Regions from separate parts of the Homo sapiens genome. Here all the other regions are linked to region 2. The links come from fine-mapping of genetic effects on gene expression. A gene starts in region 2. Each other region holds a variant in brackets. All regions are shown on one strand. Distances are between the middles of the regions. Region 1 overlaps IGSF23 (immunoglobulin superfamily member 23). Region 2 holds the start of CEACAM19 (CEA cell adhesion molecule 19). Region 3 holds the start of PVR (PVR cell adhesion molecule). Region 4 overlaps IGSF23 (immunoglobulin superfamily member 23). Region 5 has its middle 24 kb from the start of CEACAM20.

Evidence for each region.
Region 1: its variant is fine-mapped to the expression of CEACAM19 in whole blood (TOPMed, PIP above 0.99).
Region 3: its variant is fine-mapped to the expression of CEACAM19 in tibial nerve (GTEx, PIP above 0.99).
Region 4: its variant is fine-mapped to the expression of CEACAM19 in esophagus muscle (GTEx, PIP above 0.99).
Region 5: its variant is fine-mapped to the expression of CEACAM19 in whole blood (TOPMed, PIP above 0.99). The same link has a PIP of 0.9 or more in blood mononuclear cells.

The regions. Positions count from the first base shown.
Region 1 is chr19:44,616,365-44,620,482 of GRCh38, forward strand. All of the region lies in intron 1 of IGSF23 (immunoglobulin superfamily member 23), which reads left to right. Among named protein-coding and RNA genes, the nearest start is that of IGSF23, 4.9 kb to the left of the region's middle. The variant C/T (reference allele first, on the strand shown) is at 2,471.
Region 2 is chr19:44,669,611-44,673,728 of GRCh38, forward strand. It overlaps CEACAM19 (CEA cell adhesion molecule 19), which reads left to right and starts at 1,872. Exons shown (of 8, transcript NM_001127893.3): 1 at 1,872-2,376; 2 at 2,986-3,354. The coding sequence starts at 2,322.
Region 3 is chr19:44,640,703-44,644,800 of GRCh38, forward strand. It overlaps PVR (PVR cell adhesion molecule), which reads left to right and starts at 3,208. Exons shown (of 8, transcript NM_006505.5): 1 at 3,208-3,473. The coding sequence starts at 3,395. RefSeq lists a silencer at 3,160-3,239. The variant C/T (reference allele first, on the strand shown) is at 1,615.
Region 4 is chr19:44,624,817-44,628,934 of GRCh38, forward strand. IGSF23 (immunoglobulin superfamily member 23) reads left to right here. Exons shown (of 5, transcript NM_001205280.2): 3 at 2,604-2,757. Among named protein-coding and RNA genes, the nearest start is that of IGSF23, 13 kb to the left of the region's middle. The variant T/C (reference allele first, on the strand shown) is at 2,437.
Region 5 is chr19:44,552,095-44,556,212 of GRCh38, forward strand. It overlaps the pseudogene CEACAM22P. Among named protein-coding and RNA genes, the nearest start is that of CEACAM20, 24 kb to the left of the region's middle. The variant G/T (reference allele first, on the strand shown) is at 1,901.

The DNA of each region.
Region 1 (4,118 bases), 53 kb before region 2:
TGTAAGAATTGCTGAACATAATTCTACTTTTTGTTTAAAAGAAATAGAAACAGCCAGGCGTGGTGGCTCACACCTGTAATCCCAGCACTTTGGGAGGCCCAGGCAGGCGGATCACAAGGTCAGGAGATTGAGACCATCCTGGCCGACATGGTGAAACCCTGTCTCTACTAAAATACAAAAAAATTAGCTGGGCGTGGTGGCGCACGCCTGTAGTCCCAACTACTCGGGAGGCTGAGGCAGGGGAATCACTTGAACCCGGGAGGTGGAGCTTGCAGTGAGCCGAGATTGCACCACTGCACTCCAGCCTGGCGACAGAGCGAGACTCCATCTCAAAAAAAAAAAAAAAAGAAGAAGGAAATAGAAACAATAACAAGCATAAAGCTTGAAAAAAAAAAACAGTAAAAGTTTCCAAAACATAGTGTTTATTTCTAGGAGTCTAAGTTTTCTGCTATAAAAATGGAAATAAATAAATATATATATATGAGTATATATGAGTAATACCATATATGTAGAGAGAGAGAGGGAGAGAGAGAAAAAGAGAGAGAGAGAGAGGGAGAAAGGTCTTGCTCTGTCACCCAGGCTGCAGTGCAGTGGCAGGATCATAGCTCACTGAAACCTCAAACTCCTGGACTTGAGGAATCTTCCCACCTCAGCCTCCTGAGTAGCTGGGACTACAGGCGCGTGCCACCATGCCCAGCGAATTTTTTATTTTTGTAGAGACAGGGCCTCACTCAGTTGCCCAGGCTAGTCTTGAACTTCTGGCTCAAGTAATCTTCCAGCCTTGCCCCACCCCTCCCCCCGCCCCCGCAAAGTGCAGGATTACAGGTATGAGCCAACACACCGGCCTACTCTTATATTAAAAAAAAAAAAAAAATGCCTATCAGGAGTGAAAGGATTAGGTGTGGTGCCCAAGAGACGCAGGGATTCTTTTTGGGGTGACGAAAATGTCCTTAAATTGCTTGAGGTGATGGTTGCCCAATTCTGTGAGTATACTAAAAGCTCTTGAATTGTACGCTTTAAATGAGTAAATTATTGGCTAAGAAAGTAGATTTTATGTGTTCTCACCACAAAAAAAATAAGTACATGAGGTAATGCATATGTTAATTAGCTCAATTTAGCCATTCCACAATGTATATGTATTTTAAAACATCACATTGTACACCATAAATATACACAATTTGTATTTGTTAATTTTAAAAAGAAAAAATAGTGGCAAGGTTATAACTTAATCAGTGTCCAGAACAAACATTATGTCACCCTTTAAAAATGTACCATTCACATTGATTTATAACCCTTTATTATTTCTAAATAAGGTGGTGAGAAAATGTTGGGTGAGGGGTTGGGTAGGAGTAAATGGAGCAAAGCAGATCCCAGAACCAGAAGACATTAGTAGTATATGGAGAGAGACACTCAACAGGAGCTGTGGGCTGGAACAGAAGGACCCAGCCAACTGTAGGACTAATCCCTTCAAGCTTACTCCCCCGCTGCCCTCTCCTCTTCTGCCAACGTGCCCACTGACAGAAACCAACCAGCAGCAAAAGGTAAGGGGACCCCAACAACACAGCTCAGAGAAGTCAGCCTTTCAGGCAGCAGAGTGGAGCAGAGAAGGGTAGAAAACCAATTTTTGCAACATCCAGTATAATATACGTGCGTGCTTCAAGGGGTCAAGGAGAGGAATCAATGATTCCTCCTCCTTCCCTGCTCTTCCAAGGCGCCCTGCTCACATCCTGCACCTGCTCTGCCTTCTCAGAGCTGCCCTTCTCGGCACAGCTGAACACCTTGACCGAAGGAGCCAGTGTCCATCTTCCTGTCCCCGGAAGGCTTGAAGGCATTCTCACCACGTCTTGGTTCTGAGGGTATGACGCCCAGCCAGCAGCCATGATATTCTCCCCGAAGGGCCTCCCAGGACCTGCTCACACTGGCCGGGAGATGCTGGGAACCCAAGGCAGCCTGGTCATTAGAAAATGACGGCTCAGGACTCGGGCAGCTACACCGTCGTGCTGGAAACCAGCAGGGGACACAGGAGTGTGACGGAGCAGATCCATGTCAAGAGTGAGTGGGGCCCCGCAGTGGGAGGGGCTGACTTCTCAGAAAGCAGACCCACTGGACCTCAGAAGAGCCCACCAGGACACTTTGCATGCTGGTTATCCATTGCTCCCCAATAAACCACCCCAAAACTTAAAACATCAATCACTTATCTAGCTGGACAGTTGTTGTGTTCAGCTGTTGGGGTGTCTGGGTGTTGGCTGGTCCAGAATGACCTCCTTCATGTGCCTGGCCATGGACCAGCTGGTGGCTGGAGTGATGGGGATGAGTGGGCCACATAGCCTCCCAACCTCCAGCAGGCTATCCCAGGCTTGTTCACTCAGCAATGGAAGAGGAACAAGAGGTAAAGCTGCAAAACTCCTTCAGGCCCAGGCTCAAAACTGACCACCATCACTTCTGCCACCTTCTATTGGTCAAAGCAAGT[C/T]ACATGGCCAGCCCAGCTTCAACAGGAAGGAAAAAGGCCCCACCTCTTAAGGAGAGGAGTTGCAATGTGTTGTGGCTATTTTTTGTCGTTGTGTTAGATTGTTCTTCCATTGCTATAAAGACATACCTGAGACTGGGTTATTTATTTAAAAAAAAAAAAAAAAGAAGAAGACGTTTGATTGGCTCATGGTTCCACAGGTGGAAGTGTAATGCCAGCATCTGCTCAGCTTCTAAGGAGCCCTCAGGGAGCTTTTAATCATAGCGAAGGCAAAGGAGGAGCAGGTGTCTCCCGTGAGAACAGGAGCAAGAGAAAGAGAGAGTCAGAGAGGAAGTGCCACATTTTACAACAATCAGATCTCATGAGAACTCACTACCATGAGGACAGCGTCAAGCCATAAGGGATCCGCCCCTGTGGCCCAAACACCTTTACTGAGGCCCCACCACCAACACTGGGGATCGCATTTCAACATGAGATTTTGGCAGGGATAAATATCCACATTATAACAGCCAAGACTTGCAACAGACATTCATGAGATACGCATTCATCATCACTTGGGAAAGGTAGAGAAGGTCTGGTAGCAGCCTTCAACCTCATCTATATTTTTATCACCTGGACTCAAACTTTCATATCTGAATTAGGAAAACAAAGCCCTGAGAGTAACCAGACCCATCCTCCTTTTAGAAGATAGTCCAGAGACTGTCCTAGTCGGCTCGGGCAAAATACTCTAGGCTTAATCAACAGAAACTTATTCCCTCACAGTTCTGAAGGATGGATTGCAAGATGAAGCTGCTGGCAGGTTTCATCTCCTCTGAGGCCTCTCTTTTTTGACTTGCGGAAGGGTGCCTTCTCATTCTGTCCTTGCATGGTCTTTCTTCTGTGTGTGCACATCCCTGGTGTCTCTCTGTGTGTCCAAACTTCCTCTTCTTATAAGGGCACCAGTCAGGTTGGATTAGGACCCACCCTAACAACTTCATTCTAACTTAATCACCTCGTTAAAGACCTTATCTCCAAATACGGTCACATTCTGAGGTACTGGGGGTTAGGGTTTCAACATATATGTTTGGTGGGGGACTCAATTCAGTTCATAACAGAGATCAACTTAGTTAGGGTTCAGATTCTGATGCTCTAACAAAGACTCAAAAAGTTCCAGTGTCGGCCAGGCGCAGTGGCTCACGCCTGTAATCCCAGCATTTTGGGAGGCCAAGGCGGGCAGATCACGAGTTCAGGAGTTCAAGACCAGCCTGACCAACATGGTGAAACCCCGTATTTATTAAAAATACAAAAATTAGCCGGGCATAGTGGCAGGCGCCTGTAATCCTAGCTATTCAGGAGACTGAGGAAGTAGAATCGCTTGAACCTGGGAGTCGGAGGTTGCAATGAGCCAAGACCATGCCACTGCACACTTAGAACCCCACTTCTGCACAGAGGGGTTTTTACTCCCCTCCCAGAGAATTTATGGACCGCTGAGGTTCATCCATCTGTATTTCTGTGATTTGATGACTAATTTTGTGTGTGTGTGTGTGTGTGTGTGTGTGTGTGTGTGTGTGTGTGAGATGGAGCCTCGCTCTGTCGCCCAGGCTGGAGTGAAGTGGTGCGATCTCGGCTCACTACAACCTCCACCACCCGGGTTCAAGCGAGTCTCCTGCCT
Region 2 (4,118 bases):
ACCTCCTCAATACACCTTGATGACTATCTCAGCCTCCACATCCTTGCATTGCTATTTATGCTGCCTGGTGCACCTCATGCTGCCTCACCCCATCATCTGCCTCATTTCTACTCTTACTCCAGGTCTCAGCTCAGATGCCCCCTCCCCCAGGAAGCCCTCCCTAGCCGTCAGGTTGAATGAGGTGTGTCTCCTTGGGCTCTCCCAGACTCCTGGGCTCCTCCATCCCAGCCCTGATCACTCTGGATCATAATTGTGTGAGAGGGGTCTGCCCCCCCAAACCCTACAGGATTGTGTGCCCTACTGTGGACAGAGGGCAGAGCAGAGGTGGTCTCAATCATCACTGTGTCACCAACATCACCCAGCACACACAACTGGGCACTGGGAATGTGTGCTGGAATGAATGGAGGATGCTTTTTAAAAACTAGGCTAAGCCAGGTATGGTGAGTCACATCTGTAATCCCAGTACTTTGGGAGGCTAAGGTGGGAGGATCACTTGAGCCCAGGAGTTCAACACCAGCCTGGGGCAACATAGTGAGATCCCATCTCTACAAAACATATAAAAATTGACCAGGGATGGTAGCACACAACTGTGGTCCCAGCTACTCAGGAGGCTGAGACGGGAGGATTGCTTGAGCCCAGGAGTTGGAGGCTGCAGTGAGCAATGATCATGCAACTATACTCCAGCCTGGGCAACAGAGCGAGACCCTGTCTTAAAAAAAAAAAAAAAGAATAACACACTTGGAATAAACATGATCCAAAAAAGTACAAAACATACACTCTGGGGCTGGGTGCAGTGGCTCATGCCTATACTCCTAGTACTTTGGGAGGCCGAGGCAGGAGGATCATCTGAGGTCAGGAGTTTGAGACCAGCCTGGCCAACATGGCAAAACCCCATCTCTACTAAAAATACAAAAATTAGCCAGGCATGGTGACGCATGCCTGTAATCCCAGCTACTCAGAAGGCTGAGGCAGAAGAATCACTTGAACCTGGGAGGCGGAGGTTGCAGTAAACTGAGATTGTGCCACTGTACTCCAGCCTGGGTGACACAGCATCTAAAAAAGAAACCAATCCAAAAACTACAAAATATTCTTGCAATTATAGGTGACATATTTAAATGGTAAGACAACCAATGTTCATGAATGGAAAGACAGAGCAAGACCCTGTCTCAAGAAAAAAAAAAAAAAAAAAAAAAAAAAAAAACAGGCTGAGCGCGGTGGCTCACACCTGTAATCCCAGCACTTTGGGAGGCCAAGGTGGGCAGATCACCTGAGGTCAGGAGTTCAAGACCAGCCTGACCAACATGGAGAAACCCTGTCTCTACTAAAACTACAAAAGTAGCCGGGCGTGGTGGCGCATGCCTGCATTTCCAGCTACTCCCTGAGGTGGGAGGATCGCTTGAACCCAGGTGGCAGAGGTTGCGGTGAACTGAGATTGCGCCATTGCACTCCAGCCTGGGCAACAAGAGCGAAACTCCATCTCAAAAGAAAAAAAAAGAAAAACACGAGGCTAAGAGCTTTTTTTTTTTTTTGAGACGAAGTCTCGCTCTGTCACCCAGGCTGGAATGCAGTGGCGCGATCTCGGCTCCCTGCAACCCCTGCCTCCCAAGTTCAAGTGATTCTCCTGCCTCAGCCTCTCCAGTTGCTGGGATTACAGGTGCCCACCACCACGCCTGACTAACTTTTGTATTTTTAGTAGAGACAGGGTTTCACCATGTTGGCCAGGCTGGTCTCAAATTCCTCACCTCGTGATCTACCCACCTTGGCCTCCCAAAATGCTGGGATTACAGGCGTGAGCCACCGCACCCAGCCTGCCTCAGAGCCTTCAAGTGAGTCAGCCACAGGTGAAATCCCACCTCTGTCTATTGGCAGACTTGCCTCTTTTCCTGGGCCTCTGTTTCCACATCTGTGCAATGGGAACAGTTATTTATGGTGGCTGCTGAATGAGGCAGTGTGTGTTTGAACAAACCCAGGGGAATTGTTCAAACAGAGGCTGTTATGACTATTGCTACAGTGACTGCTGTTGTAGTCACGCTGAGTGAGAAAAAGAGGTTGAAGAGGGTCAGGGGAGGAGTCCTGGGAAGTTCCCCAGTCACCCTGAAAAACTGGTTCAACCTCTGTCTGTGCTCCCATCCCAGGGAGTATAGGTGGAGCCTCCAGAGCCCATGGACAGGGCATGCTGGGGCTGGGCCAGCCCCAGCGGTGTCTCTAAGGCACCCCTGGGATCCCCACTGAGCTGGCCTACTTCAGACAGCCAGGGCCCACCCCTCTGGCCCCCTTAGTGTCCAGCTCGTGGCCCCTTGGCATTTCCACAAGACGCCAAGATGGAGATTCCCATGGGGACCCAGGGCTGCTTCTCAAAGAGCCTCCTGCTCTCAGGTAAGGAGGAAATAGACCCTAAAGGCCAAGGGGAGAAATGGGGACTCAGCCCAGAGATTGAAGTTTCCTCTTAGAAGTAGGGAAAGATTACCTGAGAGGATGAAATTAGAATAAGATGGGGGAGGGGCAACAGAATCACAGCCTCATTGCCATTTTATCTATGGAATTTTCTATAATGTTAGGACCATGAAGGCAGGAATTTATGTATGTTTGGTTCCCTGCTATATCTCCAGTGTCTAGAAATTGAAGGAAGTTTAGATGTATTACATATAGTTGGTATTATAGCTTATATATTACATATGCCTATAAGTATTGGTTGAATAAATGAATGAATGAATGAATTCAGAGAGTCCATGTGTTTAGAAGCAGGCCACACAGCATCTCAAGGTAGAAAAACCTCTGGATCAACAGGATGGCAAATCTGTGGTAACCATGCCTGTGTTCCCACTCCTGCACCCAGGGCAGACATCACTAATCAATCCCAGCATTGTTTCCAATGAGCAGCACTCAGAGTCCTTGCTCCCCGCTGAAGATCTGTATCTAGAGAGGAGCATGCCATGGTCCCTGGCAACACCCCTGATCTCAGCCCTTCCCTGTAACTTCCCACAGCCTCAATCCTGGTCCTCTGGATGCTCCAAGGCTCCCAGGCAGCTCTCTACATCCAGAAGATTCCAGAGCAGCCTCAAAAGAACCAGGACCTTCTCCTGTCAGTCCAGGGTGTCCCAGACACCTTCCAGGACTTCAACTGGTACCTGGGGGAGGAGACGTACGGAGGCACGAGGCTATTTACCTACATCCCTGGGATACAACGGCCTCAGAGGGATGGCAGTGCCATGGGACAGCGAGACATCGTGGGCTTCCCCAATGGTTCCATGCTGCTGCGCCGCGCCCAGCCTACAGACAGTGGCACCTACCAAGTAGCCATTACCATCAACTCTGAATGGACTATGAAGGCCAAGACTGAGGTCCAGGTAGCTGGTAAGTGTTAGGGTCTGGGGATGAGGTGAGGAAGCTAATGAGCCCTGAGCAGCTACCATGCACCAGGTGCTGTGCAAACACCATTTCATTTGGTCCTCTCATTTATTCACTTGACACATATTGAGCATCTACTGTGTACCAATCCCCAGAGATAGTCTTTAACCCTCACATGCATTAACTAATAAAATATCTATGAAATGCCCGCCTTGTGCCTGACACTGGAGAATGCACCATCTCATTTACCTTTCACATGCACTAACATTAACCAAATTTTTATCGAGCACTTACTGTATGCCTGGTTGTGAGGAATGCATCCCTCAATCTTTATGTTTATAAAGCGAGTATTTACTGATGAATCCACTCGGGGCAAAGTGTGAGGGAAAGGGTGGTGGGCAATAATGACAGCTGGCATTTCTTGGGTGATCGTTAAGAGCCAGGCACCATCTTAAACATTTTCCCTAAAGCATAGTTTCTCAGCTTCAGCACTACTGATGTTTTGTATTGGCCAGTTCTTACTAGTAGAGGGTTTGTGCATTGCAGAGATTTCAGCAGCACCCCGGCCTCTACTCACTAGGTACCAGTAGCAGCTTCCTAGTCATGCCAACCAAAAATGTCTTCAGATATTACCAAATGTCTCCACCCTGGGATAAGAATCACCCCTGGTTGAGAACCATTACTCTATATTTACTCATTTTTACCTTAAAACAACTCCATGAGGCCAGCGCCATTATTGTCTCCATTTTACAGATTGAAAAATGGAGGCA
Region 3 (4,098 bases), 29 kb before region 2:
GTGCATGGCCTTTGGCCCAGCAAATCAGCTTCTGGGAATAAATATGACAGATACTGTTACATACATGGGAAATGCCATGGACATGATGACCCAGGGAAGCACAGTTTGCAAGTACAAAAGGGCTGGAAACACCCAAAAAGCCCATCCCCTGAAGACAGTTTCAAAAATGACGGTGCATTCATGTAATGGAATAGTACACATTTGTGAATGAATGAATGAGGTAGCTCAATATATCTGCCTATGGGAAAATCACCAAGATATGTTGCTAAGTGAAAAACAGAAAGATACAGAATAATGCTACCATTTTATTTTTTAATGGGAGAGGGAAGAATAAGGAAATGGATTCATATTTGCTTAATTACACAAGCTTCCTGATGATCCTTTTGGATCCAGAAGTTTGAAAACCACAGCATCAAGAGGATGCCCATTGGGCATGGTGGCTCACGCCTGTAATCCCAGCACTTTGGGAGGCTGAGGAGGGTGGATCGCCTAAGTTCAGGAGTTCGAGACCAGCCTGGCCAACATGGTGAAACCCCATCTCTACTAAAAACACAAAAAAATTAGCTGGGTATGGTGGTGCAGGCCTGTAATTCCAGCTACTTGGGAGGCTGAGGCGCAAGAATCACTTAAGCCTGGGAGGCGGAGGCTGCCGTGAGCCGAGATCACGCCATTGCACTCCAGCTTGGGAGACAGAGCAAGACTGTCTCAAAACAAACAAACACACACAAAAAATAAGATGCCCATTGGAGATCTCCATTCACTATTTTATCAGATGATATTTCAGCACTTGAGTGAAGAAAATGTCTACAACTGGTCCAAACACTCAAGGAATTTAGACTCTTGACAGAGAAACACACAGAAGCAAGCAGATATGCCCCGAACCAAACTTGCTTTTTCTTCTAAGCCTGCTTCTTCGGAGCAGCCTCTGACCCTCCAGGGCCCTGAGAGGAGTCCCTGGAGCCACAGGAGCTTGGGAGCCCAGAGAAGTGGGGGAATCCCAGATGGTGACAGCATCATCCAGAGGAGGAACATAACGATGGCCACAGATTCCCAATTTGGAAATAACTCAGCAAAACAACACTGACAGAAAATTCAGAGATTTCCAAGAGACTAGCCTCCCTGTTTCCATTTAGAAATTCACCTACATACATCCAGGGTGAGAGACCCCAAGCATCAGATGTGTCATACACAAGCATCAGATCCAAGTTAGAGAGGGCACCCGGGGACAGAAACCTCCAAGCCAGCCAAAAGCCAAAGGAAGGATTTTACAGAAAGATACAGGAATGTGGGGCCAGGCACAGTGGCTCATGCCTGCAATCCTAGCACTTTGGGAGGCCGAGGTGGGAGGATCGCTTGCGGCCAGGAATTCAAGGCCAGCCTGAGCAACATAGCGAGATCCTATCTCTACAACAAATTTAAAAACTAGCTGGGTGTGATCACATATGCCTGTGGTCCCAACTACCCAGGAGGCTGAGGCAGGAGTTGAGCCCAGGAGGTGGAGGCTGCAATGAGCAATGATGGCGCCACTTCACTCCAGCCTCAGTGAAATAGTGAGACCCTGTCTAAAAATAATAATAAAAATAAAAAACATATAAAGATGTCAGAGCACAGGGA[C/T]CAGAGCTGTTAGTCGGCCTCATGGAGACCCTGGCCAGGACAGCCACCTCTGGGGACCAGGAAGTCTCTCAGTTTCTGTCTCTGAGGGTTTGGCTCTCTGAGTCTCTCTGTCACCTCTCATTTCTCTCTCATCTCCCTCTGTCTATGCTGTGTCTCTATCTCTTTCAATCTCTCTGTCTCTGTCTCCCAGCCCTTATCTCTGAGTGTGTCTGTTTCTCTCTCATTTCTCTCTCTCTCTCTCTCTCTTTCTCTCTCTCTCTTTCTCTCTCTCTCTTTCTCTCTCCCCCCTCCCTCCTCCCCTCTCCCTACTGCAGGCTGGTCCATAACCCTTATCTTCCCCAGACCTGATGGAGTTCTGGTATTAATCTGTTTATGGTCTGTTTCCCTCCACTAGAACACGGTCTTCATTAAAGGCAGAGATTTTTGTCTGTCTTATTTTCTGCTGTATACCCAGTGCCTGGGATACTGGCTGGATCAATAAATATATGCTGAATGAAGAATGAATGAATGACCATTCTCATGAACATTATTATTTGATGCCAACTGTAAAGCAACAATAATAATAATTGTCACTGCCACTGCTGCTATTGTTGGTATATCAGCTTTTTATTTAGTACAAACTATATCCCCGAAATTGAGCTAGGCAGTTTCTTGTTTAAGTTTTACAGACCACGCTGTGAGGTAAGTACTGTTAGTATGCCCTTTTTTCTTTCTTTTTGAGACAGAGTCTCACTCTGTCGCCCAGGCTGGAGTGCAGAGGCCCGATCTTGGCTCACTGCAACCTCTGCCTCCCGGGTACAAGTGATTTTCCTGTCTTAGCCTCCCCAGTAGCTGGGATTACAGGCATGTGCCACCATGCCGGCTAATTTTTGTATTTTTAGTAAAGATGGGTTTTTGCCATGTTGGCCAGGCTGGTCTTGAACTCCTGGACCTCTGGTGATCCTCCTGCCTCGGCCTCCCAAAGTGCTGGGATTACAGGCGTCAGCCACTGCGCTTGCTCCCCCAGCCCCCAAACTTTTTTTTTTTTTTTTGAGACAGGTCTGGCTCTGCCACCCAAGCTGTAGTGTAGTGGCGCAATGGTAGCTCACTGAAGCCTCTAACTCCTGGGTTCACACAGTCCTCCTGCCTCAGCCTCCCAAAATGCTGGAATTCAGGCCTGAGCCACCGCGCCCTACTATGCCCATTTTTCAGATAAAGAATCTGAGGGCCCTCGAGGAGAAACCACTTGCCCAACATGAGCCCTGGTCTTGTCTGACCCCAAAGCCCATGGGAAGTTTAGGCTGCGTGGAAGGACAGCCTGGTGGGCTCAGGATCTGTCCCATCACGAGTTGGAACCTCAGCTCTGCCACTCGGCAACCGCGAGCCGTTAGTAAGTTGCTGAATCTCTCCGTGTGCCTCCGTTTCCTCACCTGGAATGTGGGCGACCTCACACAGGAAGCCGCCTCTTCTAGTGGGCACCGACGGAGCGAGCGCGCGTCTGCAGCGGGACTGAGCGCCGGGAGAGACCTGCGCAGGCGCAGGCGCGCGGGGAGGGCCAGCCTGGGTGGCCCACCCCGCGCCTGGCGGGACTGGCCGCCAACTCCCCTCCGCTCCAGTCACTTGTCTGGAGCTTGAAGAAGTGGGTATTCCCCTTCCCACCCCAGGCACTGGAGGAGCGGCCCCCCGGGGATTCCAGGACCTGAGCTCCGGGAGCTGGACTCGCAGCGACCGCGGCAGAGCGAGCGGGCGCCGGGAAGCGAGGAGACGCCCGCGGGAGGCCCAGCTGCTCGGAGCAACTGGCATGGCCCGAGCCATGGCCGCCGCGTGGCCGCTGCTGCTGGTGGCGCTACTGGTGCTGTCCTGGCCACCCCCAGGAACCGGTGAGTGACCCCCGCGCAGTCCGGTGGCCCCTGTCTGGCTCCCAGCTCCGCATCCAGGCCGGGTACTCGCCCCCTTGGGTTCCCGAAGATGACGGCCCCGCCCGGCGCCACCCACCCCCCATCTCTGCCCCGGGGTTGGAAGGAACACGGTGCGAGGGTGCGAGGGCAGGACCCTCCTCTTGGCCACCCGGAGAGCGGTCGGAGTTGGGTACAGAAATTCCTCGAAATTGGCAGCAACACGGGTCGGGCACAAGACCCTCCTCTGGGCCCCTCGGAAAGGGGATGGAGTTGGGTGAGGAAATTTCCCAAAAAGGCAAGTGAATCCCGGAAAATCAGCAGATGGTGACGCATGCCGGATTACCTTACCCAGGTTCCTGCTCAGCATACCCAGGCCATAACCCAGCAGCGTGCTGGCAGGCTGGGTCTGGACGGAGGGGATGGTTGATGTTGGGGAGGAGGACAGTGGGTGACACTTGACACCATTACCCCTCTGACCCCCAATGTCTGACTCCAGGGGCCTGGCCATTCATTCATTCTTTCATTCTTTTTTTTTTTTTTTTGAGACAGTCTCACTCCATCACCCAGGCTGGAGTGCAGTGTCCTGCTCTCGGCTCACTGCAGCCTC
Region 4 (4,118 bases), 45 kb before region 2:
TTTGGGAGGCTGAGGCAGGAGGATCACTTGAGCCCAGGAGTTAGAGACCAACCTGGACAACATAGTGAGACCCTGTCTCTACCAAAAAAAAAAAAAAAAAAAAAAACTAAAAATTTAATCAGGCATGGTAATGCCACCTGTAGTCCCAGCTGCAATGGGAGGATCACTTGAGCCCAGGAGTTTAAGGCTACAGTGAGCTGTAATCGCACCACTGCACACCAGCCTGAGTGACAGAGGATGACTGTCTCAAAAAAAAAATCACCATTGTCATCATCTAAGGAGTGGTTCAAAGCAATGGCTTTGGAATTTGAATCCCTGGCTGTGTGACTCTGAGCCAGTGCCTTGACTTCTCTGTGCCTCAGTTTCCTCATCTATAACACTGGGAAGATAATAGTGCCTACCCCAGTGTGTAGTTGTGAGCATTCAATGAGATAAGCCGGTGAATAGCTTAAAACAATAATGTCTAGCACTATCGAACACTAATGAGTGCTCAATAACCGTGAGCCAATAACACTGTTGCAATTAGCATTGTCATTATTAATTGTAGCTATTACCATATACAGTCGGTATATGGAGCCCTAGGTGGCAATCAAAATGACAGCAAGTTGTTGAGATCAGAGAAGTGGTTTGGGACCTGGTCAAAACTCAGTTCAGTCCCTGTTCCCGTGCCTTCCTGGCTGGGTAACTTAGCGCAAGTGACTTCCCCTCTCTGAGCCCCAGTTTCCTCATGTGTATAATGGAGGTAATCCTATATACCTCTTCAGGGTTGTTATAAGGAACGAAAACAAGGGGTGACTGAGTTTGGCAGAACAACTGTCAGGCAGCAGGTGCCTTGAATAGCAGCTGTTATGGTGAATATTGTTTTTAGTGTGTTATTCATGGAGGGACACATGGTGATATGGTTTGGCTGTGTCCCCACCCAAATCTCATCCTGAATTGTAGCTCTCATAATCCCCATGTGTCATGAGAGGGACCCGGTAGGAGGTAACTGAATCATGGGGTCAAGTTTTTCCCATGCTGTTCTCGTGATAGTCAATAAGTCTCACGAGTTCTGATGGTTTTACAAAAGGCAGTTCCCCTGCACACATTCTCTTGCCTGCCGCCATGTAAGACATGCCTTGCTCCTCCTTCACCTTCTGCCATGATTGTGAGGCCTCCCCAGCCATGTGGAACTGGGAGTCCATTAAACCTCCTTTTTTTTAATAAAGTACCCAGTCTCAGGTATTTCTTCATAGCAGTATGAAAATGGACTACCATGGCTTGGAGTGAACTAGAGGTATGCAGAGGAACTGGCCAGGAGAGAAGAGAGGGAGGGTATTTGGGGTAGGAAAGAATGCATGAGTCAAGGTTCAGAGCTGGGACATGGAAATGGAATGCGTGATGGGAATCTCAGCTTGGCTGGGTCCCAGAGAACCACCTCACCTCCCTGGCCAGGGTCCAGTGGGAGCTTCAGGGCTGATGCACTGGGGGAAAAAATGTAAATCTTATATCACCTAGTGACCCTGATATTCAGTGAGAAGGACAATACTTCCAAGACCTCCTTTGCTCATTCATCAACTGCCCAGGAAATGTTTATGAGCACTTGCTGTGTGGCCAGCCCACACAGCTGGGAACACTCTGGTGACCAAGACAGCTGCAGCCCTGCCTTCACAAGACTTACAGTCCAGTGTCCACAGACAGTGATCACCAGAGTGGGCAGGGCTGGGATGGGGGAGCCCAGAGAGCTATGAGACTCAGCCTAGGAGTTAAGGAGGGCTTCCTGGAAGAAGGGACACCTGAGCTGAGAATTATGCTTAGCTGGCCAGGTACAGTGGCTCATTCCTGTAATCTCAGCACTTTGGGAGGTTGAGGCGGGTGGGTCACTTGAGGCTAGGAGTTTGAGACCACGCTGGCCAACATGGTGAAGTAGATGGTGAAGAAGATGGTGAAACCCCATCTCTACTAAAAATACAAAATTTAGCTGGGAATGGTGGCATGTGCCTGTAATCCCAGCTACCAGGGAGGCTGAGACACAAGAATTACTGGAACCCAGGAGGTGGAGGTTGTAGTGAGCTAAGATTGTGCCACTGCACTCCAGCCTGGTGACAGAGGGAGACTCTGTCTCAAAAAAAAAAAAAAAAGGAATTATGCAAGCCAAGAGAGAGAGATGGCATTCCAGAGAGACAGTGCAGCATGGACAGGCCTGGAGGCAAGAGAGAAAGAAAGGGATGAGCTTGGAAAATTGAGTGGAGTCCAGGGTTGCATGGCTATAAAGGCAGGGCAATGAGAGAGATGAGGCTGGCCAGGTGGCAGGGCCTCGAAGGCTAAGGTGAGAAACTGACTTCTGCCCCAGGGTGCTGGGAAGCCACAGCAGGGTTCTGAGCAGGGGAGGAACAGGGTCAGGTGTGAGCTTTAGAAAGATCCTCCTGGCTTCCATGTGGTAGGAAGGTGGATGGG[T/C]GCTGGACTAGGGCAGGAGAGCAGGGAGGAGAGGGGGCCAGAGACCTGGAGGATGGAAGAGAAGGATGGATTGAAGAGACACTTGGGAGGGGGAATGGCAGGAGGGAGGGGTGCACAGGGAGGGCGGGCAGATGGCTCCTCCAATCTCACCCCTCCTTGGTCCCCAGAACCCATCATGCAGCCCACAGAAGCAGAGCCCATGGAGCCAGACCCCACTCTGTCCCTGTCAGGAGGCTCTGCCATCGGGCTCCTTGCGGCTGGGATCCTGGGAGCCGGGGCACTGATTGCAGGCATGTGTTTCATCATCATCCAGAGCCTAAGGTACCTCTATCCCTCACCCCCGTCCACTGGGCAACATCCACTCAGCCCCCATGGGGCACAGAGCTGGCTCAACAAGGAAACAGAGATGAAACCAACACCCCCATCAGGGAGGGTGATAGCGACTCCTGAGGAGCCCATCTGACTCACTGGTTTCCAAAATGGGATCACAGCAACAAAGAGATAGAAGAGGACACTAGAGCTGGGCTGTCTGGCTTCAAGTCCCAGCTCTGTAACTTACTAGCAGTGAGGCTGTGGGCAAGCCACTCCCCTTCTCTGTGCCTCAGTTTGCCCATCTGCAAAATGGGGATGATAATAATAGCATCTGACTCTCTGGGTTGTTGGGTTGGGTTGTTGTGAGTGAATTTTTCTTTTTCTTTTTTTTTTTTTTTGAGATGGAGTCTTGTTCTGTTGCCCAGGCCGGAGTGCAGTGGTGCGATCTCGGCTCACTGCAACCTCTGCTTGCCAGGTTCAAGCAGTTCTCCTGCCTCAGCCTCCTGAGTAGCTGGGATTACAGGTGCATACCACCACGCCTGGCTAATTTTTGTATATTTAGCAGAGACAGGGTTTCGCCATGTTGGTCAGGCTGATCTCAAACTCCTGACCTCATGATCTGCCTACCTCAGCTTCCCAAAGTTTTGGGATTACAGGCATGAGCCACTGCACCCGTCCAGTGAGTGAATATTTCTAAGAAACTTAAAGCAGTGCCTGGAATGTGGTAAGTACTATGTTCGTCCTCTCTACACATATCTGCAGTGACCGCTCTGTGCCAGGCACTGAGGATACCGAGGGAAGAAACAGCAGAAAGACCCTGCCCTCATGGAACTTGCATCCTGGTCGGGGACACCATCAAGAAACACAATGAATGAGTGAAATATAGATAGTATATTGGATGGGCCAGGTGTAGTGGCTCACACCTGTAATCCCAGCACTTTGGGAGGCCGAGGTGGGTAGATCACTCGAGCCCAGGAGTTTGAAACCAGCCTGAGCAACATGACAAGACATCTTGTCATCTCTCTCAAAATATAAAAATTAGCCAGGCATGGTGGCATGCACTTATAGTCCCAGCTACTCAGGAGGCTGAGATGGGAGGATCACCTGAGCCCAAGGAAGTCTAGACTGCAGTGAGCTAGGATCATGCCACTGCACTCCACACTGGACACAGAGTGAGACCCTGAGTCAAAAAAGTAATAATAATAAATCTTTTAAAAAAGATAGTATGTTGGATGAGCGCTAAGGAGAGGAGTGAGGCTGGGAAGCAGGACAAAGATTGTGGAGTGGGGTGGCATTTAACGAGTCAGGGAAGGCCTCCCTGGGACAGTGACATTTGAACAAAGGGAGGGAGTGGGGAGCCACGTGAGGGT
Region 5 (4,118 bases), 120 kb before region 2:
ATATGGCAGACTGGCTGCGGATCTCAAGACCGGAGAAAGCACATGGTGGTGAGTTTTCTGGACTTTCTTTGCGCCTCACAGATCCCAGACTGGGAGCTGGAGAGCCTGGCAATCTAGAAATGCCAATGAGTGTAGATCCAAAAGAGGCTCAAGCAAAGCCTGCTCTAGCCAAAGGACAAGGAGCAGTAGCCTGACAAGATTTGCTAAAGACAGCAAATCTTTACAAGATAATCACTTTGCTGCTGTGATATCCCACAGAAAAGCCTGGACATTTACCCTTGCCAGCTGTACAGAGACACCCATCCCCTCCACCAGGCTGAATAAGCAGCTGGGACTGTCATCCTTGCCCAGCAGTAATGAGCACCGACCCTGCAGTGTCCATTGAGGCCACTAGGGAGCGGTAACGAGGCGTCTCTGCCCCTTCTGGGCAAGATGGTATCAGAGGATGTCTCAGTGGAAAGCCTGAACTCTGCTAACTGCCCAGAGTAACAGTTGCCCCGCCCCACCTGGAATGTCAACAGAGGCCAAATGGGGAACCTGGACCTCCATCCCCACTGGCTATAACAAGATGGTGCCCTTTTTGCCCCACCAGCAAGATGTCAGAGGAGACCTGCTATAACAGAAGATTTAAATGAGATCCAGCGTCTCATAATTTCCAAAATGTCCAGGGTGTTGTTGAAAATCACTTGTCATACACCTACATGTAATCCCAATACTTTGGGAGGCCGAGGTGGGAGAATTGCTTGAGCTCAGAAGTTCGAGACCAGCGTGGGCAACATAGTGAGACCCCATCTCTACAAAAAAAAAAAAAAAATTGACTGAATGAGAAAGACATTCCTGAAATTAAATGAGGAAAGACAATTAATAGAGATGACATGGATTGTTGTTGATGTTTTCTAACTTGGTCTTGAGTTTTCTAGGGGATTTAGTTGTAGATGTTTAAAGTGTAATTTTCACTGGTTACTTCTTTATCTTGGTGGTCGGCCTAATGCCTACATGTCTGACCTGTGACCAGGTGTCCCTCTCACAGTACACTTATTTTTTGTGTGTTTGTTTGTTTTTGAGACAGAGTCTCACTCTGTCACCCAGGTCGGAGCGCAGTGGTATGGTCTTGGCTCACTGCAACCTCCACCTCCCAGGTTCAAGCAATTCTCATGCCTCAGCCTCCTGAGTAGGTGGGATTACAGACATATGCCACTACACCCAACTAATTTTTTTTTTTTTTTAAGTACAGACGGGGTTTCACCATGTTGGCCAGGCTGATCTTGAACTCCTAGCCTCATGGGATCCTCCCACCCCAACCTCCCATAGTGCTGGGATCACAGGCATGAGCCATCACACCTGGCCACAGTACACTTGTTTATAATGGCAGACATTCTTAAGGCTTTTGTCTGACCTGTGTCCAGTTTATTTCTACAAAGAGAGCCATGCTTTAGGACAGCCCTGACCAGGAAAGACGTTAGGTTTGGATGTGTCAGTCAGGTGAGACACAGAGGAGGCAGCACAACAAAACACATGAAATAACAGGGGCAGTTTATTACTCACAGATTCCGGAGAAGACAGAGCAGCACATCTCACAGAGCCAACAGGAAGAAGAGAGTTGTCGGGACACGCACACTCAACCAGCGGGTGGGGAGCAAGAAAGAGAAAGTGAGAGACCTGTGGGCTGATGCTTTTATTGGAGTCTAAGGAAACTGCTCAGGCAGTTTTCCACAGAGAATTCTAACTGGGTTTAGAGCCAGCAGGCACAAGTTGCATGGAGTCACACTGACTGGGAGGTGATCACTGTGGCATATCTGCACAGCCTATGCAGGGTCTGGGGGTCAGGGGGACAGTCAGGTGAGTTATATCTAGCTGTTGCATAAGGAGGTGGTTAACAGGAAGTGGTAGTGTAAGGCAG[G/T]TATCTGGATCTGCCACATTAAGGATCTGGGGGGAGGCGGAGACCTGGAAACTGTGTCAAGGGTGACTAAGCTTTTCTTATGGTATGAGAAAGTCCAACTTATATTCAAAATAGATACTGAGCCAGGCACAGTGGCTCACATCTGTAATCCCAACACTTTGGGAGGCTGAGGCAAGAGGATTGCTTGAGCTCAGGAGTTTGAGACCAGCCTGGGCAACACAGTGAGACCTCCGTCTCTACAAATAAAATTTCAAAAAATTAGCTGGGTGTGGTGGCATACGCCTATAGTCCCAGCTACTTGGGGGACTGAGATGAGAGGTTCACTTGAGCCCAGGAGCTCGAGGCTGCAGTGAGCCGTGATTGCACCACTGCACTCCAGCCTGGGTGACAGAGTGCGACCCTGTCTCAAAACAATAACATTTCAAAAATTGATACTGAGTTTCTATAAAATTGTAAGAATTCACTACACTGATGTTAGAATTGTCTTAAAAGAATCTTAGAGCAGCCAACATAAAAATGCTTCAATGAACAATTACAAACACTTGAAATAAGTGAAAAACCAGAAAGTCTCAGCAAAGAAATAGAAGATATGAAAAAGAACAAGACGGAAATTTTAGAATGGAAAAGCACAATAACAGAAATTTTTTAAAAACTTAATGTTTGAGCCCAGCTGCAGAATGGAGATGACAGAGATAAAAATCAGTGCAGATAAAAGTTACCAAATCTGAACAACAGAAAGAAAATAGACTGATAAGAAGTGAAGAACAGAACTTTGGGACCTGTGGGACTTTAACAAAAGAGCCAACATTCATGTCATTGGAGACCCAGAAGGAAAGGAGGAAGTGGGTATAATGGCTGGTTTCCCAAATCTGGTAAAAGACATACATCTATGGAATCAAGAAACTGAGTAAACCCCAATGCCAGCGTGGTAATCAGGATTCTAAATATAGTCCTTCCAGATTTCTGTTCCTGATTGTTCAATCAAATGCTAATCTAGGTATTGCTTTGAAGGGATTTTGTAATTAAAGCTCAAAGTCAGCTGATCTTAAAATACAGATCATCTGGGTGGGCCTGACCTGATCAGGTGACTCTTTTAAAAGCAGATCAGATGAGAAAGTCAGAGAATCAAAACACAAGGAGGATTCAATGCATCCTTGCTGTCTTTGAAGATGCAGGGGTCAATGTGTGAGCAGGGTAGAGTGGCCTGCAAGAGCTTAGAGCACCCGCAGATGACAGCCAGCAAGGAAACAGACCTCAGTCCTACAACTGTAAGAACCTGGATTCTGGCCAGGCACAGTGGCTCATTCCTGTAATCCCAGCACTTTGGGAGGCCGAGGCAGATGGATCACGAGGTCAGTAGATCGAGACCATCCTGGCTAACATGGTGAAACCCCGTCTCTACTAAAAATACAAAAAATTAGCCAGGCATGCTGGTGGGTGCCGGAGCTTGCAGTGAGCCGAGATCGCCCCACTGCACTCCAGCCTGGGCGACAGAGCGAGACTCCATCTCAAAAAAAAAAAAAAAAAAAAAAAGAACCAGGATTCTGCCACCATCTGAATGAGCTTGGATATGGGTTCTTTCCCAAAGCCTACAGGTAAACCCCAGCCAACTCACATCACACCTTGATTTTGACCTGGTGAGAGAACCCAGTTGAGGACACTTGGACATCGAGGTACAGAAACTGAAATAGTAAATGTTATTCACTCTCTTAGTTCACCCAGAATCAGACTCTGCACTAGAATGTAAGTGCAATTAGTTTATTATTTATTTATTTACTTTTTTGGAGATGGAGTCTCGCACTGTCGCCTGCCACCACGCCAGGCTAATTTTTTGTATTTTTAGTAGAGACAGGGTTTCACCATGTTAGCCAGGATGGTCTCGATCTACTCACCTCGTGATCCACCTGCCTCAGCCTCCCAAAGTGCTGGGATTACAGGCGTGAGCCACCACACCTTAGTGCAATTAGTTTATTTTGGAGAAAGCATTGGCAGAGGTGTGGGAAAGTAAGTAAGGGAAAAGAAGGAAGCCATATAGAAAAATTAGCTCTATAGAAAACTGGAGCTCACCTCTGAAAACTGGTACAAAACACACCTCTGAGGGCCGGGCGCAGTGGCTCACGCCTGTAATCTCAGCACTTTAGGAGGCTGAGGCAGGCAGATCACCTGAGGTCGGGAGTTTGAGACCAGCCTGACCAACATGGAGAAACCCCCTCTCTAC